Regions from separate parts of the Homo sapiens genome. Here regions 1, 2 and 4 are each linked to region 3. Evidence: fine-mapped expression QTL. A gene starts in region 3. Each other region holds a variant in brackets. All regions are shown on one strand. Distances are between the middles of the regions. Region 1 has its middle 11 kb from the start of FBXW10. Region 2 overlaps ALKBH5 (alkB homolog 5, RNA demethylase). Region 3 holds the start of ALKBH5 (alkB homolog 5, RNA demethylase). Region 4 holds the start of MIEF2 (mitochondrial elongation factor 2).

Region 1 (7,782 bases), 550 kb before region 3:
AGTTTGCCATTTGCCTAAAGGCTTGATGAATGCTTGTGATTAATCTTAGGAAGCTTATCTGTCAAAAGAAGAATGAAATAATCAGGGGGAAAGGACTGAGAACCATAAAGGAAGGTGGAAAATTTCATATGAAAACAAGAACACCTGGGGCGTGGGTATTACGTGACAGTTCTTAAAAGAACCATTCTTTGAATGAGAAATCAGACAAGTCCACATATTCCAGGTTACTTTAGAGGAGAGGAGTAGGGCCCCTTTCCAGAGGTCACAGGGACTAAAACTCAGACACTGTTAAGACATTTCTTCTAATCCTTGCTGTCCCCAAATAGAAAGGACTGCTGTGTGAGGCAGTGAGGCAGTGAGCCAGTGCAAGGCAGGATGGCTGAGTCAGATGTTGTGTGTGGATTTGCAAACTTCAAGAAGTTTCTCTGCTATGCATTTTATTCCCTTTTATACAATGTCCATGATCTAATAAGGAAGGTGGCCGGGTGCGGTGGCTCACGCCTGTAATCCCAGCACTTTGGGAGGCCGAGGCGGGTGGATCACGAGGTCAGGAGATCGAGATCATTCTGGCTAACACGGTGAAACCCCGTCTCTACTAAAAATACAAAAAATTAGCCGGGCTTGGTGGCGGGTGCCTGTAGTCCCAGCTACTCGGGAGGCTGAGGCAGGAGAATGGCGTGAACCTGGGAGGCGGAGCTTGCAGTGAGCCGAGATTGTGCCACTGCACTCCAGCCTGCGCAACAGAGCGAGACTCCGTCTCAAAAAAAATAAAATAAAATAAAATAAAATAAAGGAAGGCAATATGATGTGGTGGTTAAAAGTCCAGTGTCATTCTACCCACACTTGAATCCCAGCTCTGCCCCTCACTCACCATGTGACCAGAGTGACCTTGAACAAATTAGCTAACTGCCCCGGACCGCAGTTTCTCCATCTGCAAAATAAGGATGATATAAGCATCTACCCAATGGGTGTTCTGTGAGGACTGAGTTAATGTGCAGGAAGCACAAGAACGGTATCTGGCACATAGGAAATACGCAAGTTAGCAATTTATTATGATAACTCTGCAATCTTTTCAGCCACTCTTGAAGGTTCCTGGTCATCCATTCTGGGCACAGTGTGACATTTACCTGAACAGAGAGGAGAATGGCACTAGAAGATGAGGGAGATTTGGTGCCTAAAAATTACTACAAACAGGCAGGGCGCAGTGGCTCACGCCTGTAATCCCAGCACTTTGGGAGGCCGAGGTGAGTGCATCACGAGGTCAGAAGTTTGAGATCTGCCTGGCCAACATGGTGAAACCCCATCTCTACTAAAAATACAAAACGTTAGCTGGGTGTGGTGGCAGGCACCTGTAATCCCAGCTACTCGGGAGGCTGAGGCAGGAGAATTGCTTGAACTCGGGAGGCGGAGCTTGCAGTGAGCCAAGATCACGCCACTGCACTCCAGCCTGGGCAACAGTGCGAGACTCCGTCTCAAAAAAAAAAAAAAAAAGAATTACTGCAAACACATAGAGAACAGCACCATATGGAGCAAAAGAGAGCAGCTGGAGAATGTTTTCATTCAGAGACCCCATAGGATTTCAAAAGCCAGCTACCATCAGCAGTTATTTTTGCCCCCAAATCACCCTAAAATGCAAATCCCATCACTGTAGCTGGCAAAGGTCTGGGATATGGCTCCTGGAGTCTAGGGAGCAGTCCCCACCAAGGACGGTGCTGGCTTCTCGGGTTCCTCTCCCAGATCTACAATCCGGATGGCGTTTTCCTTCTTGGAAAGCCAGAAGGCAGCATAGACTGGTTCTGAAAACTTGCAGGCAAACTTGTGAACCAGAGTCATGGAATCATACTCTACGCCATAGAAGGAAAGGATCCCTCCTGGGAAGTCAATATAGACCCCGAGCCTCCAGAAAGGGCCAGCTTTGAGTGGGGTCTCCATGTCACTGTACCAGGCCGTGAACTCCTTCCCGTTCCATTGGAGGCTCCAGGAGAAGTTGTTTCCGGAAATGCAACTGCTGCGCTCCTCCCCTTTCTGGTCGATGCCTTTGCAGGTCAGGCCAACATAGGTGCCTGCCCCGAAGATCTCCACCTCAAAATAGTACCTGTGCAGGTACAGACTCTGCTGGGACAGCACCTGCCGCCAGTGCAGGAACCTGCTGGGGAGGTCCGGGTAGGGATGCTCCCAGGGCGTGGTGTTGGTGACCTTGCGGTTCTCCTCCTGCAGCCGGAGATACTTGTGTGCTGTGTCCGGGTCGAACGTGATGTCATGCACATCTGAGGAGACACAGAAGGCAGGAGAGTGGTTCAGGAACTGACAGCTGATTCAGACAGAATGCTTTAAACCCAGCTGGGCTCCAAAGCACATATGAGAAAACATCCATTTCTCTGTTCTCTATTTACCCAGGCTGCTGTTTCCCTAGGAAATGAGGTGAGTGAAGACCAGAAAACAGAGAGCACAAATCATCTACTCCCTTCCCTTATGAAGCTCAAATTGCTTGACATTGATGATGTTATTTGATGAACCGAATCAAGAAATATATTAATTTACTCATTCATGCATTCATTCATTCATTCAACAAACACGTATTGAATGCCTGGCATTATCCTATCCAGTGTTGGCAAGTGTTTGGGGAAGCAGGTACTCCTATACCCACATTTGATCCATTCATTCATTTTTTTTTTTTTTTTTTGAGACGGAGTCTCGCTCTGTTGCCCAGGCCGGACTGCGGACTGCAGTGGCGCAATCTCGGCTCACTGCAAGCTCCGCTTCCCGGGTTCACGCCATTCTCCTGCCTCAGCCTCCCGAGTAGCTGGGACTACAGGCGCCCGCCACCGCGCCCGGCTAATTTTTTGTATTTTTAGTAGAGACGGGGTTTCACCTTGTTAGCCAGGATGGTCTCGATCTCCTGACCTCATGATCCACCCGCCTCGGCCTCCCAAAGTGCTGGGATTACAGGCGTGAGCCACCGCGCCCGGCCCATTCATTCATTTTTTAAAATATTTAACCAACATCTTAAAAATGAATGAATGGATCAAATGGAGCATGAAGAATTCTCAAACACGCCCTCATATTCTCCTCCCACTCCCAAAGAATAATAGGGTCTCATGCACCCCATTGCTCAAGTCAAGCTCTATGTCATTTCTGACATTTGTTTTGCCCTCATCCTCTTCCCCTATCCTCACTACACACACAGGAAGCAGTAACTCCTACGGATTCTACCACTTCTCTCCAGCCCCCTGCTTTACCCCCGACCTAAGCCACCACTCATCTCACTCAGACTAGTTCAGCGGGTTTCTGACTGGTCGTTAGCTGTTCTCTCTTGCCCCCTTCAAGACCTTCTCCACAACAGAGCCATGCTGCTTGTTTCCAGCTGTAGGCTGAGGCCAGTCGTGTTATTCTAGCTTAATAATTCTAGTTATTCATGGTGCCCCTTGCTCTTATGATAAAGCAGCAACCCCTTGCCCTGGCCTACCAGGCCCCACGTCCCTGGTCCTTTCCTGTGTCTCTGACTCTCTCCCTTGATTACTACATTTCCACCGTGCTGACCTCAGACCTACTCAACACTCAATCCTCTTTGAGCCTTTGGTACAGCCTGTTCCCTCTGAGATGTGATCATGCCCTACTCTGAGTCTGGTGATTCCTACCAATCCATTCAGGCTACAACTGAGAGTTCATGTCCTCGAAGAGGCCCTTTGTGACTCTAACTCACTCTCTCTCAGAGCACCATGGCGTTTTAAACTTGGCACCCCTCTCCATTTGTAATAATAGATATTCATGTGAGTGTTTGTTTCCTGCTTGTCCTCCCTCTAATCTATGAGCTTCACATTTTGCATGGGATTCTTCTCTAGCTCAGAGAAGATGCTCAGTATATACTTGCCAAATGAATTAGCATATTAAAGGCTATTAAAACAATCCCATAATTAAAAAAGTTCTCACTGGTGCAGCGGCTTATGCCAACACTTTGGGAAGCTGAGATGGAAGAATCACTTGAGGCCAATAGTTTGAGACCAGCCTGGGCAACACAGCAAGG[C/G]TCCATCTCTACAATTGTTTAAAAATTTTTTTTTTAATTAGCCAGATGTGGTGGCATGCGCCTGTGGTCCCAGCTACTCAGGAGACTGAGGGAGGAGGACTGCTTGAGTGTGGGAGGTCAAGCCTGCAGTGAGCCATGATCAAGCCACTGTACCCCAGTCTGGGCAACAGAGACCCTGTCTCAAAAAATATACATACATACATATATATATGTCTACATGTATATATATGTAAACATACAAAATATGTGTTTAGTGACTGTTTATGTCAATTAACAGAAGGCTATTACTAGTTAAGTTCTTGAGGAATCAAAAGCTACACGTGGATGTTCAACCATATGAGGGATTGGTATCCCAACCCCTACATTGTTCAAGGGTCAACTGTGCAGTGTTTTAAAAATGCTAATGGACCAAGTCAATAACACTTAATGATAGGTCAATGAGTTATGCAATTCTGGCCAAGTCATACATAGAAATGAATCACTTGGTAACTAGCCAGGACTCTTCAAAGTGCTATGGTCATGAAACACAAGGATTGAAAGACTGATCCAGACTGAAGGGGACTAAGAAGACATGGAAACATCTGTGACCTTGGATTGGACTTTGGGCCAGAAAAAAAGGGCATTGATGAAAGACTTGGTGAAAGCTGAATAAATTCTGTAGATTAGTTGATAGCATTGTAGCAATGTTATTCCCTGGTTTTGATCAATGTATGGTAGTTATGTAACGTGTTAACATTAGGAGAAACTGAGTGAAAGATATATGGGAATTCTTTGTCTTATTTCCGTAATATTTTTGTAAGTTTCATATTATTTCAAAATGAAAAGTTAAAAAAATTGTTTAAATTAAATTTTAAGAAATGTATCATTTAGGGATAGACATGAAGTTGCAAGAACCTGAAACCTAGATGAGAGATGGCGGTTCTGACTTAGCAAAGCACTGCACTGATATCAACAACTGGAGAAGGGGGTGCCGTTCACAACTTACATTGGAGGAACTGTTCCCTGGTGCTGGGCTCAGGTTTGGAAGTCCAATATTTGCGCTGAACAATGGCAGACACTTGAGTTCTGATGTCATACTCCTCTAGAAAATCAAGAGAGTTGTGAATGCACACCTGTCCAGGTGGTCAGGAGAATCTGCAAATCAGGACTTCCCAGCCACCCTTCCCTGGGCTTCCTGGGGAAAGAAGGGGCTGAAGCCTGGTAATGTTTCACAGAAATACGCTCAATAGACTACATTTCTTTCATAGGTAAGGCATAAACCACTGAAAAAGTGATCCAGACCGTCTTGGATTTAACTTAAAAGTATAGGCATCAGCAACCTGGGAAGCTACTCACAGAAATGCCAGCCGATGGCATAATATAAGCATGACTAAGTGTCCTTCTCTGGGTCTCAATTGTAAAAGAAAATCATCAAGATGAGAGTCCATTAGTAACATACCCTGTCTGAAGCATGGCTTTGAAAATGAGACATTTGGCTGGGCACGGTGGCTCACACCTGTAATCCCAGCACTTTGGGAGGCCGAGGTGGGCGGATCATTTGAGGTCAGGAGTTCGAGACCAGCCTGACCAACATGGTGAAACCCCGTCTCTACTAAAAATACAAAAATTAGCCAGGTGCCTGTAATCTCAGCTACTAGGGAGGCTGAGGAAGAAGAATCTCTTGAACCCGGGAGGCAGAGGTTGCAGTGAGCTGAGATTGCGCCATTGCACTCCAGCCTGGGTGACAGAGCAAGACTCTGTCTCACAAAAAAAAGAAAAAAAAGAAAAAAAGAAAATGAGACATTCCCCTGATTTCATCCTCCCTTCCCTGACTCTCTCTCACCTTCCTATCATCTACTGCTAGAGACACACTCACTATAGTCCATGGCCCAGAATGTGTCTCACCTTCCTTGGAAAACTCCTGGAGCTTTTTCTTATAGTTCTCCAGCAACTGGATTAAGTGTACAGTGGATTCCGTGATAACTTTGCGGATGCCCGAGAGTTTATCCTTCAGCCCTATGTAAACACTAGGGAAGGTGATGTCTTCAGTGTTCTTAAACTTGCAGTACTCCTGCAGAAAAGGAAACAGCAGAACTTGCTGTGGTTTCTGTATTTCTAAACTCGGGCTTCTCTCCTCATTAAGTCACTTTTTGCATCTGTAAAATGGGCTGACGGTAATGTGTCCTTCACAAAGAAAGTACATGTAAAGTGTCAAGCTCAGGGTCTAACAAAATAGATAGCACTTCTCTAGCTGCTAGACCCTCAGAATAAGTGGGATTTTAAAAAAAAGAAGTGAGAACGTGGGATTTTAAAAATCAAGATGTACTAGATGGCCATGAACAGCTCCAATACACAGTCCAGACTGGGGACCAAAAAATAAAGAACATTCTTGCTTTGTTCATGCCGTCAGTACTTGTTTTTTGACAATTTAAACACAAGCCATGGTGGAAAATGGAGGAGCTCTCAGGCAGGAGTGCTGCCTCTTCCTTGTCAGTTTCATCCAATGCATAAATTTCTGTAATTCTTGTACCTTGCTTTAGTATTTGGAAAGTGTTTTCACACTGATAATCACATAGTTTCATGTAAGTTTTGAAACAACGTGTGATCAGGAAAGATGCTTTCAGATATAACACAGTATCAAACTTCAGCTGCAACTGAAGCATTAAAGAGCAGAACAGGTACAGCAGAAAACATAGCAATGAAAACAGTTGTATGAAAATGATTAGATAGAGCCATGGAAATCAAAACCAGAGAATTGATAGAGAAAAGGGTAATTCAACATTTTAATGCTATATACTGTACAAGACAAAAGTAGCATTTTAAATCAGTGGGAGAAAGGATAAGTTATTTGGATAAGTTATTCAATAAATCTTGTTTTGAATGCCTAACCAAAAATTTGGGGGGAAATGTTATCTTTTGCCAAAATAAATAAATATCTTTTTTTTTTTTTTTTTTTTGAGACATAGTCTTGCTTTGTCACCCAGGCTGGAGTGCAATGGCGCGATCTTGGCTCACTGCAACCTCTTGCCTGCTAGGTTCAAGCGATTCTCCTGCCTCAGCCTCCCAAGTGGCTGGGACTACAGGTGTGCGCCACCATGCCTGGCAAATTTTTTTTATTTTTAGTAGAGACAGGGTTTCACCATGTTGGTCAGGCTGGTCTCAAACTCCTGACCTCATGATCTGCCGGCCATGGCCTCCCAAAGTGCTGGGATTACAGGTGTGAGCCACCGTGCCCAGCCAATAAATAGTTATCATACACTAGAATTTATTTTATATGTATTAAAGTCTTTTATGTTAAAAATAAACTTACAGGCTGGGTGCAGTGGCTCATGCCTGCAATCCCAGCACTTTGGGGGGCCGAGGTGGGTGGATCACAAGGTCAGGAGTTCGAGACCAGCCTGGCCAAGACGGTGAAACCCCATCTCTACTAAAAATAAAAAAAATTTGGCCAGGCGCGGTGGCTCACGCCTGTAATCCCAGCACTTTGTGGGGCCGAGGCGGGTGGATCACGAGGTCAGGAGATCGAGACCATTCTGGCTAACACGGTGAAACCCCGTCTCTACTAAAAATACAAAAAATTAGCCGGGCGTGGTGGCGGGCGCCTGTAGTCCCAGCTACTCGGGACGCTGAGGCGGGAGAATGGCATGAACCCAGGAGGCGGAGCTTGCAGTGAGCCGAGATCGTGCCATTGCACTCCGGCCTTGGGGGGAAAGAGCAAGACTCCGTCTCGAAAAAACAAAAAAAATTGGCCGGGCGTGGTGGCTCACGCCTGTAATCCC
Region 2 (7,782 bases), 29 kb before region 3:
AATTTTTTTTGTATTTTTAGTAGAGACAGGGTTTCACCAGGTTGGCCAGGATGGTCTCGATATCTTGACCTCGTGATCCGCCCACCTCGGTCTCCCAAAGTGCTGGGATTACAGGTGTAAGCCACCGTGCCAGGCCTTCCTTTCTTTCCTTTTCTTTTCTTTCTCTTTCTCTTCTTTTCTTTCTTCTTTTCTCTCTCTCTCCTCTTTCTCTCTCCTCTCTCTTTTAGACAGTTTCACTCTTGTCGTCCAGGCTGGAGTGCAATGGCACGATCACAGCTCACTGCAACCTCTGCCTCCCGGGTTCAAACAATTCTCCTGCCTCAGCCTTCCGAGCAGCTGGGATTACAGGCGCCCACCACCAGGCTGGCTAATTTTTGTATTTTCAGTAGACACAGGGTTTCACCATGTTGGCCAGGCTAGTTTTGAACTCCTGACCTCAGGTGATCCACCCACCTCAGCCTCCCAAAGTGCTGGAACTACAGGCGTGAGCCACTGCACTCAGCTAAGAAAGTGGTTTTCTTATTGATTTTGACAGTCCTCTGCACAGCAGCACCAGTGATCCTACATCTGTTCACATCACTCCTCTGCTCAAACTCTCTATGGGAATCTAGTGGTGTGCTGGAGCCCTCTGCAAGAGCCAAATGGCAAATTTTCAAGAACTTTTGTGAGTCAGTTGTTAAAGTCATTAAAAATTAATTATATAAAATTAAAATTACACTAAAAACTAAGGGTAATATTAAAAACTAAGCATTTCCTACTTATTTTGCCACATTTTCCTATTATCTGTACTCTTGGATTACATCTATTGTATCTGTATGGTGGAAACACTATATATTGGGGTGTTACTGCACATTTCTTCACAGCTCGATGTTCAGTGACCTTACCTTGATCAGCTGCAATCAGCCATGATAACCCCTGGACTTAAGCAATCCTCCCGCTTAGCCTCCTGAGTAGCTGGGAATACAGGGTGTGCTGCTGTGCCCAGCTCTATAGTTTTCTAGACCAGTACCATCCAACAGAAATATAATGCAAGACACATATGTAATTTTCATTATTGAGTACCCAGATATAACAGTAACAGAAAACAGGTGAAATTAATTTAAATAGCTTTTTTTTTTTTTTTTTTTTGAGACAGAGTCTGGCTCTGTTGCCCAGGCTGGAGTGCAATGGCACGGTCTCGGGCTCACTGCAACCTCCGCCTCCCAGGTTCAAGCAATTCTCCTGCCTCAGCCTATTTTATTTAACCCAGTATGTCCAAATTTAACATATGTCCAAAATAGTTTTTTTTTTCTTCTTTTTTGGGGGGGTTTTGAGACAAAGTCTCGCTCTCTCACCCAGGCTGTAGTGGCACGATCTTGGCTCGCTGCAATCTCTGCCTCCTAGGTGCAAGCCTGCCTCAGCCTCCCAAGTAGCTGGGATTACAGGCGAGCGCCACCACACCTAATTTTTGTGTTTTTAGTAGAGACGGGGTTTTGCCATTTGGTCAGGCTGCTCTCAAACTCCTGACTTCAAGTAATCCATCCACCATAGCTTCCCAAAGTGATGGGATTATACGTAGGCCACCATGCCCAGCTCAAAATAGTATCTTCAACAAGTAATCAATATAAAGTTCTTAATGATTTACATTGTTTTTTTCATACTAACTCTTCAAATTCTGGTATTTTACACTAAAAGCACATTTCAATTCAAACTAGCCACATTTCAAATACTCAATAGCCAAGTATCAGTGGCTGCTGTACTGAAGAACACAGGTCTAGATTTAAGAAAGTGATGAAGAGGGCCGGATGTGGTGGTTCACGCCTGTAATCCCAGCACTTTGAGAGGCCGAGGTGGGCAGATCACCAGGTCAGGAGATCAAGACCATCCTGGCTAACACGGTGAAACCCTGTCTCTACTAAAAAATACAAAAAATTAGCCAGGCGTGGTGGCGGGTAGTCCCAGCTACTCAGGAGGCTGAGGCAGGAGAATGGCATGAACTCGGGAGGCAGAGCTTGCAGAGAGCCGAGATCATGCCACCGTACTCCAGCCTGGGCGGCAGAGCAAGACTCCGTCTCAAAAAAAAGAGAAAGTGAAGGAAAATATTAATGATTCAGATTAAATTTAAAAGTACTGCTATAGCTGAGAAATTTTAATCCAACTAATATTTGAGGATGAGAAAGCAGATGATATATCAGATTTAATGGCAATAACTTTACTGGGAGAAGGGCATGTAGGGGCTGATCCATGGCCTCCACAAATATCGGGTCATTATCCCTGGGACCTGTGAATGTCACCTCATAAGGAAAAAGGGTCTTTCGAATATAATTAAACATCATTACATAGGGGACCGGGTGCAGTGGCTCAGTGCTTTGGGAGGACAAGGCAGGAGGATCACTTGAGGCTGGGAGTTTGAGACTAGCCTGGGCAACACAGTGTGAAGTCTTCTACAAAAAAAAAATTTTTTTTTGAGGACAGAGTTTTGCTCTTGTCGCCCAGGCTGGAGTGCAGTGGCACGATCTTGGCCCACTGCAACCTCCGCCTCCCAGGTTCAAGCGATTCTCCTGCCTCAGCCTCCCAAGTAGCTGGGATTACAGGCGCCCACCAAGCCTGGCTAACTTTTTGTATTTTTTAGTAGAGATGGGGTTTCGCCACGTTGGGCAGGCTGGTCTCGAACTCCTGACCTCAGGTGATCCACCCACCTTGGTCTCCCAAAGTGCTGGGATTACAGGTGTGAGCCACCACGCCCGGCCTACAAATTTTTTTTTTTTTTTTTTTTTTTTGAGACGGAGTCTTGCTCTGTCGCCCAGGCTGGAGTGCAGTGGCGCATCTCAGCTCACTGCAAGTTCCACCTCCTGGGTTCACGCCATTCTCCTGCCTCAGCCTCCCGAGTAGCTGGGACTACAGGCACCCGCCACCATGCCTGGCTAATTTTTTGTATTTTTTAGTAGAGACAGGTTTTCACCATGTTAGCCAGGATAGTCTTGATCTCCTGACCTCGTGATCTGCCCGCCTCCACCTCCCAAAGTGCTGGTATTACAGGTGTGAGCCTCCGCGCCTGGCCCAAAATTTTTTTAAAGAAATTAGCAGGGTGTAGTGGTGTGTGCACACCTGAGGTTGGGAGGCTGAGGCAGGAGGGTCACTTGAGCCCAGGAGTTTGAGGCTGCAGTGAGTCGAGATCATGTTACTGCACTCCAGCCTGGGTGACAGAGGGGCCCTAAATCCAATCGTGAATGTCCTATTAGGAGAGAGGCAGAAGCCAGGCACAGTGGCTCACACCTGTTATCCCAGCAGTTTGAGAGGCCAAGGCAGGAAGATTGCTTGAACCTGGCAGGTCAAGGCTGCAGTGAGCTGTGATCCAGCCATTGCACTCCAGCCTGGGTGACAGTGAGACTCTGTCTTTAAAAAAAAAAAAAAAAAAAAAA[AG/G]AGGAGATGTGGTACACAGAGGAGGAGGCCATGTGACCATGGAGGCAGAGACGTGAATCTGCCCGTTCCCAAGTCAAGGAATGTTAACAGCTAACAGAAGCTGTCAGAGGCAAAGAACAGGTTTTCCACTAGACAGGCAAGCCCAGTGATGTTGAGTTTCCCAGAATTTGAGAGAAATAAATTTGTCGTTTTAAGCCACCAGGGTTGTGGTGACTTGTTATGGCAGCCACGGGAAACTATTACAAGCAGGTATGATGCAAGTCCCTTTGTCATATCATGGCTGAATTATAAGCACAAGCAGACTACAAATACAGTAATTCAGCAAAAAAACTAAAATAGATTTCTGTGAGAAAAGATTGGTTATATGGAATTTATAAGAATATATATGTTTTAATAATTTAAATGCTGGCCAGGCACAGTGGCTCACGCCTGTAATCCCAGCACTTTGGGAGGCCGAGGTGGGTGGATCATGAGGTCAGGAGTTCAAGACTAGCCTGGCCAACATAGTGAAACCCCATCTCTACTGAAAATACAAAAAATTAGCTGGGCATGGTGGCAGGTGCCTGTAATCCCAGCTATTCGGGAGGCTGAGACAGGAGAATCGCTTGAACCCGGGAGGCGGAGGTTGCAGTGAGTGGAGATCACTCCACTCACTGCACTCCAGCCTGGGCAACAGTACAAGACTCCATCTCAAAAATAATATTTATATGCTATACTTCACATCAGTAAAATTTATAACTTTATGCGTATATGACATCATATACTAGGTCTGTCTTGTATCTCCAGCACTGCGCAATCTCAGCTCACTGCAACCTCCACCTCCTGGGTTCAAGTGATTCTCCCACCTCAGCCTCCCGAGTTATCTGGGACTATGGGTACGCACCACCATGCCCAGCTAATTTTTGTATTTTTAGTAGAGATGGGGTTTCACTATGTTAGCCAGGCTGGTCTCAAACTCCTGACCTCAAGTGATCCACCTGCCTTGGCCTCCCAAAATGCTGGGATTACAGGCATGAGCCACTGCGCCTGGCCAGACACTATTTTTTGAATGCGTGAACGTGACCTCTGGCCAGTCAACTTCTCTGGGCCTCAGTTTCCCCTTCCACACAAAAGGGTTGGAGGAATGGGATGGGGTCCTAGCGGGGTGAGGGATGGCACCAGCTGTTAGAGCATCTACTGTGTAGAAGACTGGGCTAGGGACAGGGGTTGATGGGACTCAGCACCTGGCCTGAGGCCCTAGGAGATGGCTGGGAACAGGCAGATCCAGAATCAGATCAGGCAGATCCAGAATCAGATGTAGAGTTCTAGGGACTACTCAGAGGATTATGTTACAGAGATAGAGTGCTACTGTACAGGTAGAGAGACAGCAGGAACTGCTAGGGCCAAAGCCCCCTCCTCTAGTCCTCCTATCTCTCCATACTACAGGGTGAAGGGCCTTTTTCACCCAGGGATTGGGAAGAGGCTGAATCCTTTTTTTTTTTTTTGAGACAGAGTCTCGCTGTGTCATCCAGGTTGGAGTGCAGTGGCGTGATCTCAGCTCACTGCAACCTCCGCCTCCCAGGTTCAAGCAATTCTCCTGTCTCAGCCTCCTGAGTAGCTGGGATTACAGGCACGCACCACCGTGCCCAGCTGATTTTTGTATTTTTAGTAGAGAAAGAGTTTCACCATGTTGGCCAGGCTGGTCTCGAACTCCTGACCTCATGATCCGCCTGCCTCAGCCTCCCAAAGTGCTGGGATTACAGGCATGAGCCACCACGCCCGGCCCGAATCTTTTTTTTTTTTTTTGAGACAGGGTCACCCAGGCTGGAGTGCAGTGACGCGATCTCGGCTTACTACAGCCTTGACCTCCTGGGCTCAAGTGATCTCCCACCTCAGCTTCTGAAGTAGCTGGGACTACAGGTGCATACAACCACACCTGGCTAATTTTTGTATTTTTGTAGAGACAGGGTTTTGCTGTGTTGCCCAGGCTGGTCTCAAACTCCTGGGCTCATCCATCTTGGCCTCCCAAAATGCTGGGACTACAGGTATGAGCCACTGTTCCTGGCTGAGTCTGACTTTTTTTTTTTTTTGTTTTTTTGAGACTGAGTCTTGCTGTCGCCCAGGCTGGAGTCCAGTGGCACGATCTCGGCTCACCGCAACCTCCGCCTCCCGGGTTCAAGCGATTCTCCTGCCTCAGCCTCCTGAGTAGCTGAGATTACAGGCGCCCAGCACTACGCCCAGCTAATTTTTGTATTTTCAGTAGAGATGGAGTTTCACCATGTTGGTCAGGCTGGGAGTTTTTTTTTTTTTTTTTTTTTTTTGAGATGGAGTTTCGCACTGTCCGCTGGGCTGGAGTGCAGTGGCACGATCTCGGCTCGCTGCAACCTTCGCCTCCTGGCTTCAAGTGATTCTCCTGCCTCAGCCTCCCAAGTAGCTGGGATTACAGGGGCCCGCCACCATGCCCAGCTAATTTTTTGTATTTTTAGTAGAGACGGGGTTCCACTATGTTGGCCAGGCTGGTCTCAAACTCCTGACCTCGTGATCTGCCCACCTCGGCCTCCCAAAGTGCTGGGATTATAGGCATGAGCCACTGCGCCTGGCCAGAAGTCTGACTTTTTAATGGCAATGGAAAATAGGGTCCTCCACAAAGACGGTTCCTCGCACTCCCCCAGCCCTTCTCTGAGCCCCTATCCCATGCCCCAAGAGTCAGAAGCTCAGGCATGGAGTGGGGGATGCTTACTTCTGCCATTTATACTCTGGATGACATTCTGCAAGTCACTTTCTCTCAGATCCGGTGTTTCCTTCTCCAGGGGATCCAAGGTCCACTCTGCCTAGCCCAGTGTCTACCCCTCCAGGCCCAACTAGCCCCAGACCACACTTGAGACTCTGGCCCCTCTCTCTTCAGACCCTCGCACTAGTTTTTAGACCAAGCCTGGGCCAGTTACTTGCCCCACTCTGGAGTCTCTCTTCTCTGGTAAATGTGGAGGTAAGCAGCTTATCCAAGTTTCCACAGCAAGAATTTGGCCAAGCAGACTAGCTCTGAGCACTAGAACAGAGTAAGAGACTCTAGATAGAAGCCCTTTACCAGGCATAGGGAGCCAGGTCTGAAGTCTGGAGGGACTAAAGCCCTCTGGGCCCCAGCCTTACCCATTGAAAAACATCTGCTTCATGCCAGTACCTGCACTCCACACTATCATGAGCATCTTGAAAGGAGGGACCAGAGTTTTGCTCACTATTGGGGTCCCAGTGTGGCTTGGTATACAATAGGAACTCAAGAATTTTTTTTTTTGTTTTTTTGAGACAAGGTCTTGCTCTGTTGCCCAGGTTGGAGTGCAATGGCACAATCTCGGCTTACTGCAACCTGTGCCTCCCAGGCTCAAGCAATTCTTGTCTGTCTCAGTCTCACTAGTAGCTGAGACCACAGCTAAACGCACCTGGCTAAATTTTTGTATTTTTAGTAGAGATGGGGTTTTGCCAAGTTGCCCATGCTGGTCTTGAACTCCTGAGCTCAGGTGATCCACCGTGCCTGGCCAAGTATTTGTTTAATGAGCAAAATCACTCGCATATTTTCCACAAAAGCCAGGTTCTCCCTTGCTTTTGTGCCTGCCATCTCCCCCTTCACCAGCACCAGCCTCTCAGTGATCATATCTAAAAGAGGGACTTCCAGAACTCCAGAAGGTGTGGTCCCTGGGCACCTGGACATTGTGGTTTATGAAGTTCACCCTCCTTGGAGTGGGAGAAAGGACAGTGGGGTGAGGGCAAGTCCACCTTCAGCCATAAACCCAAGGCTAGGCACACAGGAGGCCCAGTGTCCAAGACCAACCAACTCCTCTGGGACGCTGGCGGCCAATGAGCTAGCTCTGCCTCCCCAACCCCTGTTTCAAGTTTAAGAAAGTAAAGGGATTAAGGAAGCACCAAAGGCAAGCCCTCTCTTACAACAACATCAGACAACTGTTTCAAAATATATTAGATTTGGTTTTTATTGTAGAGCACACATATCAGGGCGAAGTGCTGCACACACAACTACAAATCATTTTTGGGAAAAAAGCTGTAAAAAAAATAAAACTGCAACTGCTTTAATTATGCAGTCCCGACTTGAGAAATCCACGCTGGCAAAGGAGTTCTGGCCCCTGAGAGGGGCTTCTTGATGGTGGCTGCCCCAGATTTCTGCAGCCTATGAGGTCTCAGACCCGGACCTCTGTACACAAAGCCCCCAAAGTGGTGGTATCCTGGTTGCTGGGAGGGCCTCTGCTCTTGGCAAGCCCGGGTCCTGGCCTGGCTGACAAGAAGACATTCCTAATGAATCTAGATCCACAAAACCTTGCTGCCTTCCAGGATCTGAGTGGATAGAAGCTACCAAAGACTTTACCTTTTTTTCCTTATTATTTTTTGAAAGCCCCT
Region 3 (7,782 bases):
GGAATCAGAAGAGTCCACACAAGAGATGTGGCCCAGGACCTATCTGCCCTACTTTCCCAACTATTTTAAGCCAGAAAGCTAAATTTTGCTTTCAACCAGCTGAACAAGATCAGACTATCCCAGAACTGACAGGGGTGCCCACTCCACCCAATACCAACCGTTAACTGGAAGAGTCACAGGCTGAGCTCACCAGTGCATGCCCCGTGCCTGGGTGATACAGTCATTTCCAGACGGCTGGCCTAGGCCTGGGTCTCTGGGCATGTGGCCACCACACCACAGACCACGTAGCAGTGATTAAAGATAGCAGCAAGTAAGCAATTAGCCTTGAAGTAATTATTCTAATTAGTCCAATCAGAGTCTGTTTTAATCTGCCCCATGCAGCCAACAGGGAATAGGAGAATGAATGACAGATAAAGTGATATGAAGATAAAAAATATTTCCCTAAAGTACAGCCTTAAGAGGGGATCCACCCAGGCCTAACATGGGAAGGTTACAAAAAACAACTGACGACTAGGTTTGGAAAGGAGTTTGAAGCACTTCCAGAAGATTCTGTGAGGCCTTGTTCTAAATGCCCAGGTTTAGACACTGCTGAGTCAATGTTTGTGACGCACCAACATCCATGCTGATCACTATTAAATATAAAATTGTATTCTTGCCATGCGGTCTTAGAGGGGTACAGATACCATTGCCACCAACACCAACTGAAGTCTAAGATGCCTACTACTAGAATCCCTCCCCATCTGCACCGCACCACTGTTTTCACCAGCCCCTCCCTTCCAATCTGCAGCTTTACTGCTCATCACCTCTGGGCTAGGATCTGTACCAGGAAAAGAGAAAGCACCACTTCTTACCAGTTTATATGCAGGATTTGACGACGGGCACTACTAATAGGCAGGTGTTCACCCACCTGCATACCAAGGTAAGCTAAGTATGCAGGTGCAAGAAGATTTAATTAGTGGAAGGGTCCAGACCCTAGAGCAGTGACTCTCAACTAAGGATTCTGCACTTCCCCTGCCTCGGCATTTGGCAGTGTCTGGACACTTTCTGGTTGTCATAAAAAACACTATTGGCACCTAGCAGATAGAAGCCAGGAATGCTGCTGAACAGTCTACAATGCACGAACAGCCTCAACAATGAAGCATTATCAAGCCCTGAATAACAATAGCACTGTTGAGAAGCCCTGATCTAGAGTTCACCAGAGCACCCTCAACCACAGTCTCTACTAATGAACTCCATCTGCCTCCCATCAACATCCACCCCCTCTTACCTATGGCTACTCCTGCTACTGCAGCCAAAGACACTGCTGTTGTGTATTTCTCCACCTTTCTCTGCTTGGCTCATTCCTAGTCACTTTTCACATTCCAGTTCATTTCCTCCCCTAAACTTCCAACACTCCAAAGTGGAAAAGATGTCCCCCTTCAGTGTGCTTCTGCAGTTACCTTCCTGGGCTATAACTTATCCTCCTGTCTGAGGCCTCCATGGGGCTTGAACTACACGAAGGGAAACTGTCATGTTTCAGGCTCCACCAAATCCCTAGTTCCTTCCCCAGTGAGAGAGCAGGGGATCACTGAGTGGTTGTATATGAAAGCAAGCACCCATTTAAGTACCTACCCTGTGCCAGGCCCTATCTTAGACAACAAATCACCACATTTAATTCTAATAGGCTTTGGAAGTTGGCATCATCCCCACTTACAGATGGGAAAGCCAGCTCAGAGAACGCCTACAAGATCCCAAAGCAAATGAGAGAAAAGCTGGATTCAAAGCCTGGGGCAGCACTTTTCAGGACATGGCTGAGCCTCCCACACTAACACCACAGCCAAGTCTGAATCCAGAAAGGGTTGACAGGGACTGGGAAAGCTTTAGGACTTTACTATTCTGAGGAAAAGATGAAGAGAATTTTCCTGATGATGCAATCCTGTTGCTGATCACTAACAGACCTGCATACTAAGAACTCGAAACTTCTGTTCTTAAAATACAGGGTGGGCATGTGTTAAGGAGAGTAGTAGTCCCAAAACCAAAAAAAAATGCCTTGTGATCCCCTCATTAAGCACCAGACCACTACTAGACCTCCTGACAACCACCCTGAGGGCCAATGACTACGCAGAAAATTAATATCCCGCTAAGAGACCAAATGGTCCTTGTGTGAGGTAATTTTTGCACTGAGAACCCGTCAATGGGGTCAGACCCCAACCTGCCTTACACAGCAAGCACCCGGAGAGGGTGTGTCCTGGAAATCCCATCTTAAAGCATTTTGCCAAGACATCCATCTAGGAGCGCCATGAAGATCTGAGAAGCTCAGAAGCCCATTATAAGAAGGCATCTGACAGCTAGGCTGTCCTCTAAGTTTCAGATGCCTAAAGAGCTAAAGTATCGCTTCTGCTACTACTGACTTCCCACCTTCCCACCAGGACGTCTTGGACATTACAAGGCTCTGCTGCCATCCCCAACATGGAAGCAGCCTCAGCTGTTAGACTCAAATGAAACAGATGACCTAATCTCATATCAAGAAGGCTCCAGGGACCCTGCTTCTCCTCATGACTTTGGCCCTACTGACTCACTTCAGAACCTGGGCTGCTCACGACAAAAGCCCAGTGTGTCCTCAACCTTGTATTTGGTGGTGGTCAACCAAGCTGCTCTGAGAACAGCTGCGGTCTAAACCTAAGATGTTTTGGGTATTACTGAATTACATTACTAGGTTTACCTTTTTCAGGACTGGAAGGAGGCCGCTTCCAAATAAATTTTCACTTCACATAAACAGCAAAGGTGTTCCCAATGGCAATCTCCTCTGGGGGCCAGGGCACTGAGCTAATTCTCAGCAGGATCTGGGAACCGAATATAGGCCAAAAGCCTAAGTTCTGCTGCTCACGCAACTGTAAGGCCAAACAGTCAAGAGACCAGCTGTATTCTGTTGTATTCAGTCCTGACTACAAGTAACACGTTCTTACAAAGAACTGATGGGCTCTTCTGCAGCCAGGAGGGAAGAATTTTAAGAGTGTGCTGCTCTGTATGCCTGGCCCAACCACTAATCTGTTCAACTCCAGGGAAGTCACTCCCCCTCCTGGGAATGGAGAATGTGCTTCAATTAAATAATCTCTGGGGCCTTTGCCTGTGACTACTTTCTCTGTTAAGGAATCCAAAAATGGCAGAACAAGAAAGACTTTTAGATAAATTAAAAAAAAAAAAAATTTTAAAGCATAGATTTGTAAATGGAAGGCCAGAATGGAAAACCGGAAAATCACAAAGGGACTTATGCTAAGAAATGGATGGTGGGAAAAAAAAAAATCAAAGGGAACAGCCTTCTGAAAAGATGGCTTTCGATGAATTCTCAGCCAAGTCAGTGATCCCGTCAAACCTGCCTTCGGGGACAGGATTTCCACATCGGTTCCCTATTTTCTTGCTATAGGTATCTTAAACACAAAACCCTTCTCTCGCTCCCTACAATCTACAAACAGAAGAACTGGTCAGAACTGTAAAAAACGCAGACTCCTACGGGCTGCTGCTTTCTGGGCCAGGGTGGGTAGCTAAGGCAGCAGGCGCAGGGCCGCCCCCTCCACCCGGGTGGGTTACCTGAGCACAGTCACGCTTCCCCTGCGCACCGGCAGGGAAAGCACTGGTTCCGACACCCGAATAGGCTTGAACTGGAACTTGCAGCCGAAGCACAGCGCAGAGTCGCTAAAGAAGGACACGGACACGATGGGGCGCTCGAAGATGTGGATGGGGTCCACGTGAGACACGATGCAGCCGCCGGGCTGGTAGTCGTTGATGACGGCGCTGTTGACGAAGCCCTCGGGGATGACGCGGTGCTCCACCAGCTTTTGGATCACCAGCTGGTGCACCCACTCGGGGATCTCGTCCACGTCGCCCGGCGGGTAGAGGCGCTCCTGGCCGGGCCCGCGCTTCTGCAGCTGGGCGCCGTAAGTGTAGCCTTCGCCGAAGAAGTACTTGTTGCGCAGTGGGGCCCGGTCCACCGTGTGCTCGTTGTACAGGCCCTTCTCAGCGCGGGACACCACCTCGTCAATGCGGGCCTCGATCTTGGCGCACTCGTCCTGGCTGAAGAGGCGCATCTGGCGGATGCCGCTCTTCACCTTGCGCGCCTCCTCCTCCTTCTGCAGCTGCTGCTCCTCATAGTCGCTGCGCTCGGGGTCCGAGTCCTCCTGATACTTGCGCTTGGCCCCGGACACAGGGTAAGGTTCGGCGGCAGCGGCGGCTGCGGCTGCGGCGGCTACGGCGGCTGCGGCAGCGGCGGCGGCCTCCCGGCTGCCCGCCTTATAGTTGTCCCGGGACGTCATGGACTTGAGCTTCTCACGCAGGTCCGTGTAGCCGCTGGCGGCCGCCATGGCCCCCACGACGCTGCTCTAGGGTCCTCCGGGGCGGGCGGGGCAGCCGGGCATGGCTCTAAGGGGACGCGCCCCGGGGCCCCCGGAGGGAGGGGGGTCCTTAGCGCCGAACCCCCATGCGTGAGTGGGGGACCCGGCGGGGGGCGTCGAGGGTCCGGGCGTGGGGTAGGGCCTCAGGAGCGGCGGGTCATGCAACGGTGGCGACAACGGGGCTTCTTCCTCCTCCACCTTCTCCACGTCCCGCGGGGCAGGGGCGCCGGCAGCGCCTCATGCCGCGGAGGGCTGCTGCGGAGACGCGGCCCGACTCCCGACCAGACCCTCGGACGCCCGGCCCGGCCCGCACTTTAAAGCTCTCCGCACGACGTCACGGGCAGCCAGCCCGACGTCCGCCAGCGCCGCTCCTTAGCGGGCTCCTCACCGCGCACGCGCAGTGCTGCCGGCCACCGCGGCTCCGCGCGCTACGGGCATGCGCGTGCGTGCAGGCCGGGTCGGCAGAGGCGCCGGCGCAAGCGCAGACAGGAACCGCTTGCCGTCCGCCGCCCCTCCCCCACTCTCTGAGGGGCTTCAAGGGAACGCTCTCAAATAGCAACCTGTCTTCACGCCGCGCCGCCTCCAGGACCGAAGGGCTCCCTCTACAGGGGTGCGCTCATATTGCCAACAGTGTCGCCGTGCCGCGTCACGGCATCGTCCGAACGCCCGCAGACGCCTCAACCCCAGGGCGCATTCACCAGGGAACCGCCACAACGTAGGCCGCTCCGTTACCTCCCCCTTTGGCGCTTCCACTTCTTTAATTGGGCCGTGGGCCACGCGCCGGGCAGGCCCTGACTGGAGTTTCCGGAAGTCGGTTGGTAATCATGCGTGTCAATCAGGCAGTCTCCTTAGCTACTGTGTCCGTCACTTAATTAGCGGCTGGGCGAGCAGCGAGGACCCCTAAAGGAGAAATGGGTGGTTAAATAAGTGCCTGAATGGAGACTCCACCTGAGTAAAGCCCTTAGAACGCCTAAGGAAACTTCTGAAACCCGCGAAAACTTCTCAGACTGCGGGACCTGCAGCACCCGGCCCCAGTTCTGAACCCAGATAGGAACGTCCGGCAGAAGCCAGACGCGCGTTGTCGGGGTACAAGCCAGCCTGCCGCCGCTGCCGCCGCCGCCCGGAGCGGACGTTTCACGAGTCACGTCCCGGTGACGGCGAGCGTGGGGGCGCGCTGGGGTTGGCGTCGAGCCTCCTTGGTGCTGGAGATGGGCGTGGGGGCACCTCCTACGGGGACTCTGGAAGAAAACTCCAGGAAACGAACGGGCGCAAGGCTAAGGCTAAGCTATAGATAATGACTACAGTCAATTCAAAAAAGTTTTGAAGCAGTCAGCAAAGGCGTTGCCGGGCGCGGGGCCTCACGCCTGTAATCCCAGCACTTTGCGAGGCCAAGGCGGGCGGATCACTTGAGCCCAGGAGTTTGAGACCAGCCTGGCCAACATGGCAACCCCATCTCTACAATAAAATTTTTAAAAATGAACTGGGCGTGGTGGCGCGCGCCTATGGTCCTAGCTACTCAGGAGGCTGAGGTGGGAGGATCCCTTGAGCCCAGGGGATTGAGGCTGCAGAGAGCCGAGCTGGCGCCACTGCACTCCGGCCTGGGCGACAGAGCTGCAAAACAAAACAAAAAGGCGTAGCCGTGCAGGATGCACTGGAGGGCTCCAACAAATGGGGGTCGGGGGGGATCTGCTGGAAAATCTCCCATGTCTCCCAGGATAAAGTTCCCCTGCTTTATTTGGCACTCAAAGCTTTTCTTCAAGACTCTTCTGGCCTTGGCTCCTCCTCTCCTCTCTTTCCATGTACACTGAGCCCCAGCCTGGTCCTCATCCTGTAAGCCAGGTCTACAAACATACTGTGTCTCACCTCCTGGCCTTTGCCCAGGCTGTTTGCCATGGCTGTTGCCCATGCCAGTTCCTTATCACCCGTCTCCCTCTCTCTCTCCCCCTTCCCCTCCTCCTCCTCGTTCTTTTTTGACAGAGTCTCTGTTGCCCAGGCTGAAGTGCAGTGGCACGATCTTGGCTGACTGCAATCTCGACCTCCCGGGTTCAAGACATCCTCCCACACCTCAGCCTCCTGAGTAGCTGGAACTATGTAGAGGCGTGTACCACCACACCCCGCTAATTTTTCTGTTTTTAGCAGAGATGGGGTTTCACCATGTTGTCAAATTGGTCTTGGAACTACTGGGCACAAGATCCTCCTGCCTCGGCCTCCCAAAGTGCTGGGATTACAGGCGTAAGCCACTGCGCCCAGCCTGGAATGGACATTTTTTTAAAAAGCTTATCAAGTTTTTACTATGTGCCAGGACCTGTGCATATACTAGCCCAATTAATCGTCCAAACAATTCAATGAGGAGGGCATTATTATTATTACCATTGTATATATAGGGAAACAGGCCCAGAGAGGTGAAATGACTTGCCCAAGGCCATACAGCGAGTATGTGGCCTAGTGATGATTCAAACCCAGGCTGCCTGGTTCCAGAATCTGTGCTGTCCCTCACCGGGGCTCCGAGAGGGGAGAGTCCTAGCTCAAGAGCAGTCAGGGAGGAACACAGGGAAGCTTCCAATGCAGTGTCCGTTATGGGAGAGGCTGTGTCAACCTAGAGAAGAGGTGATTCACATTTTGGCTCAACCTGGATGATCTACTTCCAAGAAGCCGCTTGTAGTCTGTGTGGGAGGCCCCAGTTGTATTCTGAAAGCCAAAAGGGCCCCCTCGTTTTCACTCTGCCACATCATCCCTTCCTGAGCCTCATAGTTCAGCTTGACTAGGGAAAAGGTTTTGGGGCAAAAGAATTAGCCTGACACCCCCTCCCCCTCACACACACCATGTATGATCTCACAACAATGAGAAATGAGGGGCAGAGGGCAGGCCTCAGGGCTGCCTCATGTTGGAGCCCACTGTGCTCTGTTTTGGGGGTCCCTATACTGAGCATCAGCGCCGCAGGCAGAACCCCAGGGGTTAAGTGAGCTGCTGCCAGGCATGGCCCCTGCACAGTGGTAACTTGATTGACACCACACTCTTTCTGGTGAGTTCCTTACTTTCCTCACCTTGGGGTCTGCTTCTGGGGAAAGCCAACCCAAGGCAGTGGTGAAAAGCAGGACAGCCCTGTGGCATTTGTATCAGGGGCTCTTTCTTGATCCTCTCCATCCCAGGATGGTCTGATTGACCCCCTAGTCCTGCCAGCTGGGCCTTCTAATCTCTCCCCAGTTACCAACTTCTCCCCACCCATCACCACCACTAGAATCTATGACAAGTTTTCCAGCTAACACTGCAGCAGCCCCCTCTGGTCTCCCCAACTCCTACATTCACTCACCGTTCAGTGGTCAGAATGGCTTTAACAAAGTACAGTCTGTGCAGGTTGTGCCTCCCCTTCCCCCTCTGGAAAACCTTTGAAGGCTGCTCATGGCTCTTGGGATGA
Region 4 (7,782 bases), 78 kb before region 3:
TAGATGGGGACACCTATGAACCAGGATGTGGGCTCTCAACCAAACATGGAATCTGTGACTCACTCTTGGATTTCTAGCCTCCAAAATGGTAAGACATAAATTTCTGATGTTTATAAGCCACCTAGTCTATGGCATTTTGTTATCACAGCCCAAACAGACTGAGATGCTAATTTATTATTACTATTATTATTTTATTTTATTTTATTTTGAGACAGAGTTTCACTCTTGTTGCCTAGGCTGGAGTGCACTGGCACGATCTCAGCTCACCACAACCTCCGCCTCCCGGGTTCAAGCAATTCTCCTGCCTCAGCCTCCCAAGTAGCTGGGATTACAGGCATGTGCCACCATGCCCAGCTAATTTTTTTGAATTTTTACCAGAGATGGAGTTTCTCCACGTTGGTCAGCCTGGTCTTGAATTCCCAACCTCAGGTGATCTACCGGCCTCGGCTTCCCAAAGTGCTGGGATTATAGGCGTGAGCCACAGCGCGGGGCCAAGATGCTTATTTATTTATTTTTTTGAGACAGAGTCTTGCTCTGTCGCCAGTCTGGAGTGCAGTGGTGCAATTTCAGCTCATTGCAACCTCTACCTCCCGGGTTCAAGCAATTCTCCTGCCTCGGCCTCCCGAGTAGCTGGGACTATAGGTGCGTGCCACCACGCCCAGCTAATTTTTGTCTTTTTAGTAGAGTTGGGGTTTCATCATGTTGGTCAGGATGGTCTCGATCTCTTGACCTCGTGATCCGCCCGCCTCGGCCTCCCGATGTGCTGGGATTACAGATGCGAGCCACCACACCCGGCCAAGATGCTACTTTTTAAAGTAAACTCTACCACCTCCAATTGACCTCAAGCACTCTTGCCAAAGTGCCAGGACAAGCCACAGGACTTACAGAAAACCCTCAACAGCTGCGTATGAAAGCACCAAGACTCCCTTATCCAGCCTGAGTTATATATACATTAGAATTTTTTCCTTTTATTCTTGTTCACATCTTCGAAGCTGAGCTTCGTTTCAAAAGGAAGGATACCAGAGGCAGGAGGAGGGTCACTTGGGAGGGGAGGTGGAATCTCCCTCCTCTAGCCCCCTTGCTACCTCTTAACAGGCTTCAAAGTCAGAATACAGCCATCAGCTGAGAGCAGTTCATTTTGGCACACTGGGAGGCCGGCTGTGCACACCGGACCTCTCTAGTGGGGGATCAGGTCCTCTGCTCTCCAGTGGGGCCTGGAACAGCTCCAGTGAGATGCCCCAGCTGTGGGCTGGGGGTGCAGCACAGAGCCTCAGCTCCCCCAGGACCCTCAGCTGCCTGAAGAAAACACTCACCTGGCTGGAGGGAAAAAGGGCCTTGCCCTGAGGTATCAGGTGGGTGGCAAGTCATACTGAGCTCCCGCTCAGCAAGAAAACTAAACGCACAGAAGACAGCAGGAAAATGCCATCCTTTAACAGCCAAAAATCTGTCCTTCAGGGGCACCAGGTGACTCCAGCCCCTGGGGGACAGAACAAACACACCATACCTACCATCAGGCACCAGACGCCTCAAAACGCCTGGAGCTAGGGCCGGAAAAGGCGTTAAGTCACCTTCTCTCAGCAGAAATGTGAAGCTGGCCTTCAGCTTCTGCCCAGGATGGCAGAAACCACATTCTGTTGGTGGATTGGTTGCTGGTGATGGACAGAGCCAAAGGTCCTGGGGTTGGCCCCAAGAGCTGAAACGGTGCTTGCAGGAATGGCTGGCACTCCAAGCTGCCTGAGGCAGCCCAGCTGCACTCAGGTGACAGTGACCCAAGCTCTCTGGGCTCAGGGTTTATGGCCACCATAGCCCAAGCACATCCTGATGCCCTGGGTTTAAGTAATGTACCCTCCTTTGTTCTGGCAAAAAGCTAGAGAAAAACCACTATTCAAATCCCTGGAAGGGAGGTGGGTGCAGCTCCCCAGCATTAGAAAACATGGCAACCACCCGTTTCCACCCACCTAGAGCAGCCCCTCGGGCTCCTGTAGGCCACTGTATAGCGCATAGCCAATGTCGTCAATCTCCTCCTCACGCAAGCTGCTGAAGAGGTTCACGCTGGGGTTGAAGTGGCAGGGCAGGCTGGCCTGCTCCAGGCTGCCGATGAGCAGCTCCAGGGCTTGCAGGAAGCGCTCACCCAAGGCCTCCTCCGTCCAATCCACGTTGTCCTCCCCCAGACGCAGGACCACCTGGGTCAGGTGACCCCGGCCTAGCTGCCCCAGAGCCGAGCAACCACGGCAGACAGCACACAGCAGCAGCAGCAGCCGCCGGCGAGTCCCAGCGTCATGGTCGTCCAGGGCTCGCAGCCTAGCAGCCTCCACTGGATACAGGTCCTGCAGCCAGAGGTTCCCCGCCAGCCCCTCCAGGGGCCAGGCCAAGAGGAGGCGGTCGTCAGCATCGACCCCAGGGACTGCCACAAGCACAGCCACAGTGAGCTCCAGGCGTTCGTGCTGCACCTCGAGCAGCAGCTCCTCCGAGGCCATGCTGGGCCGGATCAGGCACCCGAGAAGGCTGCCAATGGCCGGCCAGTTGACAGAAGCAGCCAGCGCCTTGCGGAGTAGCTCCAGCAGGACGCGGGAGGAGAGGTAGCCCCCGACCAGGAAGCGGTCCCAGGGGCTGCTCCCACGGGGGCAGAACTCAAGCTGCGTCCTGCGCACGGCCCAGCAGCGAGGGTCCCTCGCCACAGTGTCCACGCCCGGCACCAGGCTCCACAGGCCCGGCTCCAGCACCAGTGGCACCAGGAGACGCACATGGTCCGCAGCCCCCGCCTGCAGCCCGTCGTAGAGCGGCCCCCCAGGCACGAATGCCCCAAAGGGCAGTTCCGGGAACTTGCTCCGAAAGTAGGCCTGCAGCTCCAGGGCGATGTCGCCAGCCAGCTGTTTGGCCAAAGCCACCTGGGCTGCTGGGATGGTCACACGGTCCCGCTCGAAGGCCAGCAGCCTCTCCTGCAGTGTCAGACACAGCGGTGCTGGGGAGCTGAGCTGTGGTGTCACCTCAGGATCAGTTTCTGCAGGCCCTTCTGCAGAGTGAAGGGGCGGGGAACATGTCGGAACAGCCTGTGATTAGTTAAGAAAACGCCACCGAGAACTAGCTGTGTGATGTCCCAGGGCCTCACTTTTCTCACCTGCAGTGGCACCTGAGAAGGCACTCAGTTCAGATCCTCACATATAGTGAGCTCTTGGTGACGAGTTCTCATTGCCCCAGAGTCCAACACCCTGGCGACAACAGCTTCATGCAGAGTAGGTAGGTATGTCACGCCCCTCTGGACCTCAGTTTCCCCATCTAAAGCTCCCCACCATCACAACGCTACCACCTTGCTCCAGGAACAGGGCAAAGAAACACCACCCCCATTAAATATCTGAGGAGCCCACAACCGAGAGAGAAGCAGGGACTCGCGCAGGGTCACACAGTCAGTCAGGGCAAAGCCTGGGCTGCGTCTCTTGAATGTGACACCAAAAGAGGGGAAGGAGTGCCACTCACCTGGGGCAGACGACGAGGGGGCCAAGGGCAACACTGGCTGGCTAAGGGCAGCAGGTGGAGGCCGGGGCTGCAGGTGTGGTGTGGCCTTGAGCAGGCTCAGTTCCTTCCAGCTGTCTGCCTTGGTGTCATCCTCATCCCGCGGGCTAGTGGCCCTGTCAATGAACTGCAAGCACAGTCACACAGATCAGTGTATATGAAATCTGGGCAGTCATAGCAAAGCCCAGGGCAAAGCAGACCAGCGTGCTGGGTGGAGAAGCAGGTGCCCTGGGCTCCCATGAAGGCCTTGGGCAGTCCCCACCCCTCCCCAGGGCCCCTCTGAAAAGCCCAACCCTGTTGTCCTCCTCTAGGAGCTTCAGGCATGACCCGCCCACTTGGCCTTACCCGCTTCACGGCCAGGGTGGCAATGCCCAGCACAGCAGCCCCGCCCACGCCCAGCACCAGGCGGGCATTGGCCAGGAGGAAGTCCACCATGCTGCCCAGCCCTTCGTCGCTACGCCGCTTCCCCCGTTTCTGGGAGAACTCTGCCATGGTCTGCCTGTAAGAGAGCCAGGGGTGAAGGGGCAGCTCAGGTGCAGGTGGCCAGGCTGGGAGAGGGGCTGCTGTGGACAGGTGCTCTAGCTGTCCTTATGCTGGGTAACAGAGCTGAGCCCATGAGGGGGGCTTTCTGAGAATTTCTCAGAGAAAGGGGCCACCCATCCACAGGGGAGGACACCGAGGCCCTGGGAAATCACGTAAAGTACCTGAGAAAGGGCAGGGATGGGATATGAGCTTGGGTTTTGGGGTCCCAAGCCCCCATCTCTCATGAGGAGATGAGGGAGCTGCCAAGCCCCTTCTCCCAAAGCTGCCTGGAAAGAAGCTCACAAAGGCCCTGAGGCTTGTGCAGGTATAGGAAGGGGCCTCTCTCCCTGGAGCCCACCCTCCAGGACCTCTGACATCACCAGGGTGTCATCATCACTACCCCTATGTTACAGAGCTACAGGCTGCCAGCTCACAAGTGAGTGGTAAGGTCTCCAACCCATGACTGCAAGGCCTCCAGACTCTCATCCGCCCACAGAGTCTGACGGATTCTCCCTGTGCCAGGTGCCCAGGTCCTCAGCAGCAGCCTCATCTGAAGGTTCCTACCCAGAGGGCACAGCAGCCCTCTATGATAACCTCTTCAGAAGAGCCCAAAGTCCAGAGAAGACCAACAATTTGGGGCCCCAGCCAGTCTGGGGGACCACTGGGACCAGTT[A/T]CCCCCAAATCTTGACAGGGTAGCCCAAGAGGCAGAGCTACCAAGTCAGAGCACGGGCAGAGTAAGACGGCCCAAGCTGCCCAGGCAGGCCAATGCAGATGTGCTTGTCAGGGTTGAAGCCCCTTTGGCAGGGCAGAAAGGGCTGCCCAGTGCCTCTGTACAGGGGGCTCTCTGGGCCTCTCAGTCTTGGGACAATGTGTAGGTAGTGGTGGGTGATGCTTCTCAACTGCCGGAAGGCCAAGCAACACAGAAAGTAAGGTGAAGGCCTGGGCCCCAGCCTGTTTGCTCACCTGTAAGATGGCATAGGCAGCAGTGAGGGGCAGATGTGGGCAGCCTTGAAGTGTGTGGCTGGGTGGGGGCCAGCACTTGGGAAGTGGAGGCAAAGATCTCCTAGGGCCCAGTCCACATTCCTCACGTTCTGCGAGGGGGACACTGCCCTCAGGCCCTGGGAGCTGAGAAGGGCTGGGACCTTAGGACATCAGTTAGACACCAAGCAGAACTCTCCCGGGGAGGCCTGAGCAGATGACCATGAGGTCACAGCCTGCCCGGGCACCAAGGACTTCTACCTGCCCTGCCAGAGTGTGGGTGCCAGGGGCCCAGTTGCCAGGTGACCAGATGCCTGGAGTAGCTGAAGCCTGAAGCGCTGTGTGACTCAGCCCCGTACACCCGCCCATTCGCCCCAGACTAAAAATAAGACGGTCTCTGGGGCGATCCCAGGCCAACCGGGTGACCCGCCACGGCCCCAGGGCCGGTTTCAATCTCCTCATCGGTGACTCGGGGATCAATACTGCCACCCGCCCCCAGAGAGACCAGGAATCTACTTTGCAAACTGTAAAGCGCTTTAAATACTCCCAACCTGTCTAAATTGGGACTCAGCCCCATCTCTGGCGGGGTCGCGCAGGCCTCAGTCCACAGCCTTCCAGCTCCGAGAAGCAGGAAAGGGCACGGGTGGCTGAAAATAACCCAAGTTTGCGCAGCGGGGCCCTGGAGGCCGTTTGGCCTTCCCTCCTCCGCCAAACCTGCCTGCCCTGGGCCCGGGCGGAGCAGGCCGCGCAGCAGCCCTAGGTGGGCGGGTGACGCCCCGTTCGCAGGATAAACCAAGAGACCGAGAGGGGAAGGGGGCTGGGCTAGGATTCGAACGCTGCCCTTGGTCCCCCAAAGGTCCCCTCCCCGCCTTCCCCAGCGGTGATCGCGGGCCACGCCCCCGATCTGCGTTCCGTCGCGCGCCAAGCCCCGAGCCCGGTGACCCTGGGGGCCGCCCCGCCGCGCTCCAGCTGTACCTGCGTCGCAGCTTCCGCACGACGACCGGAGGAGGCAGCGGGACCACGGCCCCGGAGCTCAGACCAGCCTGGGAATGGAACGTGAAGGACCCTGGAACCCAACGACTAGGGCCCCGGGGGCAGCCGCGGACTTCGCAGCACGCAGACAAGCAGGCCCTAACTCCAATCGGAGCGCTCGAGTCCAGCGCACAGGTGCCAAAATACTGCGCGGTTCAGCCAATGAAGGGCAGGTCCCGCCCCCCAGCCGACAGCCGCACTCCCTCTGGGGCGGGACTCCCTGACGCAGTCTGGATTTAAAGGTGCAGGGCTGCATTCCGAGACCGCGAACAGGTGACGTGACAGGCGACCCTCCAGGACGTCTGTGCGTTGTAATGTGAGCCTCCGGTGTGGAGGAAGCTGTCTGGGCCCCGTTCCTTCTGGGGACCAGGTAGAGAGGCTGCACATGGCTAGAGGCCCGGCACATCCAACCTCTTAGGTCACCTCTGCGAGAGAGTGTCTTGGTGGCCTCATTCTTACCTGTGGGCCTGAGGGGCACAGCGCCTACCCCTGCCACCTGCTCTGTGCGAGCTTGTGTGGGCCATTCTCCACCTGGGCATCAGTTTTTCTCCTGTAAAATGGGGACACTAGACCCCCTCCTCCCCTGCGAAGGATGGTTGGGCATATAACAGCTGTGGCTCATTTATTGGGGTCCTGCTATGTGTCAGCCAGGGCGAGCCCCCTTGAACAGCAAGGACCAAGACGGATGCTTCTCTTCTGGAGCCTCCCTTTGTAGGGGGGTACGAGCACAGGGGTGCTGACACTAAGTGGGAATAATAACCTGGCGCACAAAACAAAACAAAACGGAATAATAACCTGCCACTCACTGAGCGCCTGCTGTATGCTGCGAGCTACACGTGCATTCTTTGTTAATTTGCTCATGGTGACAACCTTAGAAAGTATTTTACAAATGAGGAAACTGGGTAGGGCGCGGTGGCTCACGCCTGTCATCCCAACACTCTGAGAAGCTGATACCAGAGGATCACTTGAGGCCAGGAGATCAAGACCAGCCTGGGCAACATAGCAAGCACCCCGTGTCTACAAAAAGTATAAATAAGGCCGGGCGCGGTGGCTCACGCCTGTAATCCCAGCACTTTGGGAGGCCGAGGCGGTTGGATCACGAGGTCAGAAGATCGAGACCATCCTGGCTAACACGGTGAAACCCCGTCTCTACTAAAAATACAAAAAAAAAAAAAAAAAAAATTAGCCGGGCGTAGTGGCGGGTGCCTGTAGTCCCAGCTACCCGGGAGGCTGAGGCAGGAGAATGGCGTGAACCCGGGAGGCGGAGGTTGCAGTGAGCCGAGACTGCGCCACTGCACTCCAGCCTGGGCGACAGAGCGAGACTCTGTCTCAAAAAAAATAAAAAATAAATAAAATAAATAAATTTAGCCAGGTGTGGTGGCCTGCGCCTATAATCCCAGGTAGTCGGGAGGCTGAGCCCAGGAGTTCGAGGCTGCAGTGAGCTATGATCACACCACTGCACTCCAGCCTGGGCAGCAGAGCAAGAAGACCCTGTCTCAACAAAACAAAAACAACACATGAGGAAACTAAGTCCAGAAGCAGGAGAGCTAGGACCCGAGGATCCAGGTGTCTCACTACCACCGGTCAGCCAAGTACAGGCACTTCCTGGGCCTCTGCGCCCCGGGGCCGAGGTTTAGAATCTCTCTGAGGTCAGGGCCAGCTTCATGTGCTGCAGCAGCGCAGGTGACGGTGCCTCGACCAGCGGCCGTTACGGCCCCTGCCCTGGGGCGCTGGGACTTA

The links.
Region 1: its variant is fine-mapped to the expression of ALKBH5 in hippocampus (GTEx, PIP 0.96).
Region 2: its variant is fine-mapped to the expression of ALKBH5 in whole blood (INTERVAL, PIP above 0.99). The same link has a PIP of 0.9 or more in monocytes.
Region 4: its variant is fine-mapped to the expression of ALKBH5 in whole blood (TOPMed, PIP above 0.99).

What each region holds. Positions count from the first base shown.
Region 1 is chr17:18,729,362-18,737,143 of GRCh38, reverse strand. It overlaps the pseudogene TRIM16L. Among named protein-coding and RNA genes, the nearest start is that of FBXW10, 11 kb to the left of the region's middle. The variant C/G (reference allele first, on the strand shown) is at 4,025.
Region 2 is chr17:18,209,508-18,217,289 of GRCh38, reverse strand. It overlaps ALKBH5 (alkB homolog 5, RNA demethylase), which reads right to left. Exons shown (of 4, transcript NM_017758.4): 4 at 7,336-7,782. Among named protein-coding and RNA genes, the nearest start is that of LLGL1, 12 kb to the left of the region's middle. The variant AG/G (reference allele first, on the strand shown) is at 3,402.
Region 3 is chr17:18,180,799-18,188,580 of GRCh38, reverse strand. ALKBH5 (alkB homolog 5, RNA demethylase) reads right to left here and starts at 4,753. Exons shown (of 4, transcript NM_017758.4): 1 at 3,568-4,753. The coding sequence starts at 4,337. RefSeq lists silencers at 2,603-2,652, 3,876-4,027, 4,186-4,275, 4,356-4,655, 6,792-7,086 and enhancers at 3,921-4,758, 4,866-5,105, 5,166-5,365.
Region 4 is chr17:18,258,941-18,266,722 of GRCh38, reverse strand. MIEF2 (mitochondrial elongation factor 2) reads right to left here and starts at 6,061. Exons shown (of 4, transcript NM_139162.4): 1 at 5,986-6,061; 2 at 3,856-4,009; 3 at 3,475-3,637; 4 at 171-3,013. The coding sequence starts at 4,002. The coding sequence ends at 1,959. It also overlaps a transcript of FLII not described here. RefSeq lists enhancers at 4,512-5,131, 5,132-5,752, 6,374-6,503. The variant A/T (reference allele first, on the strand shown) is at 4,706.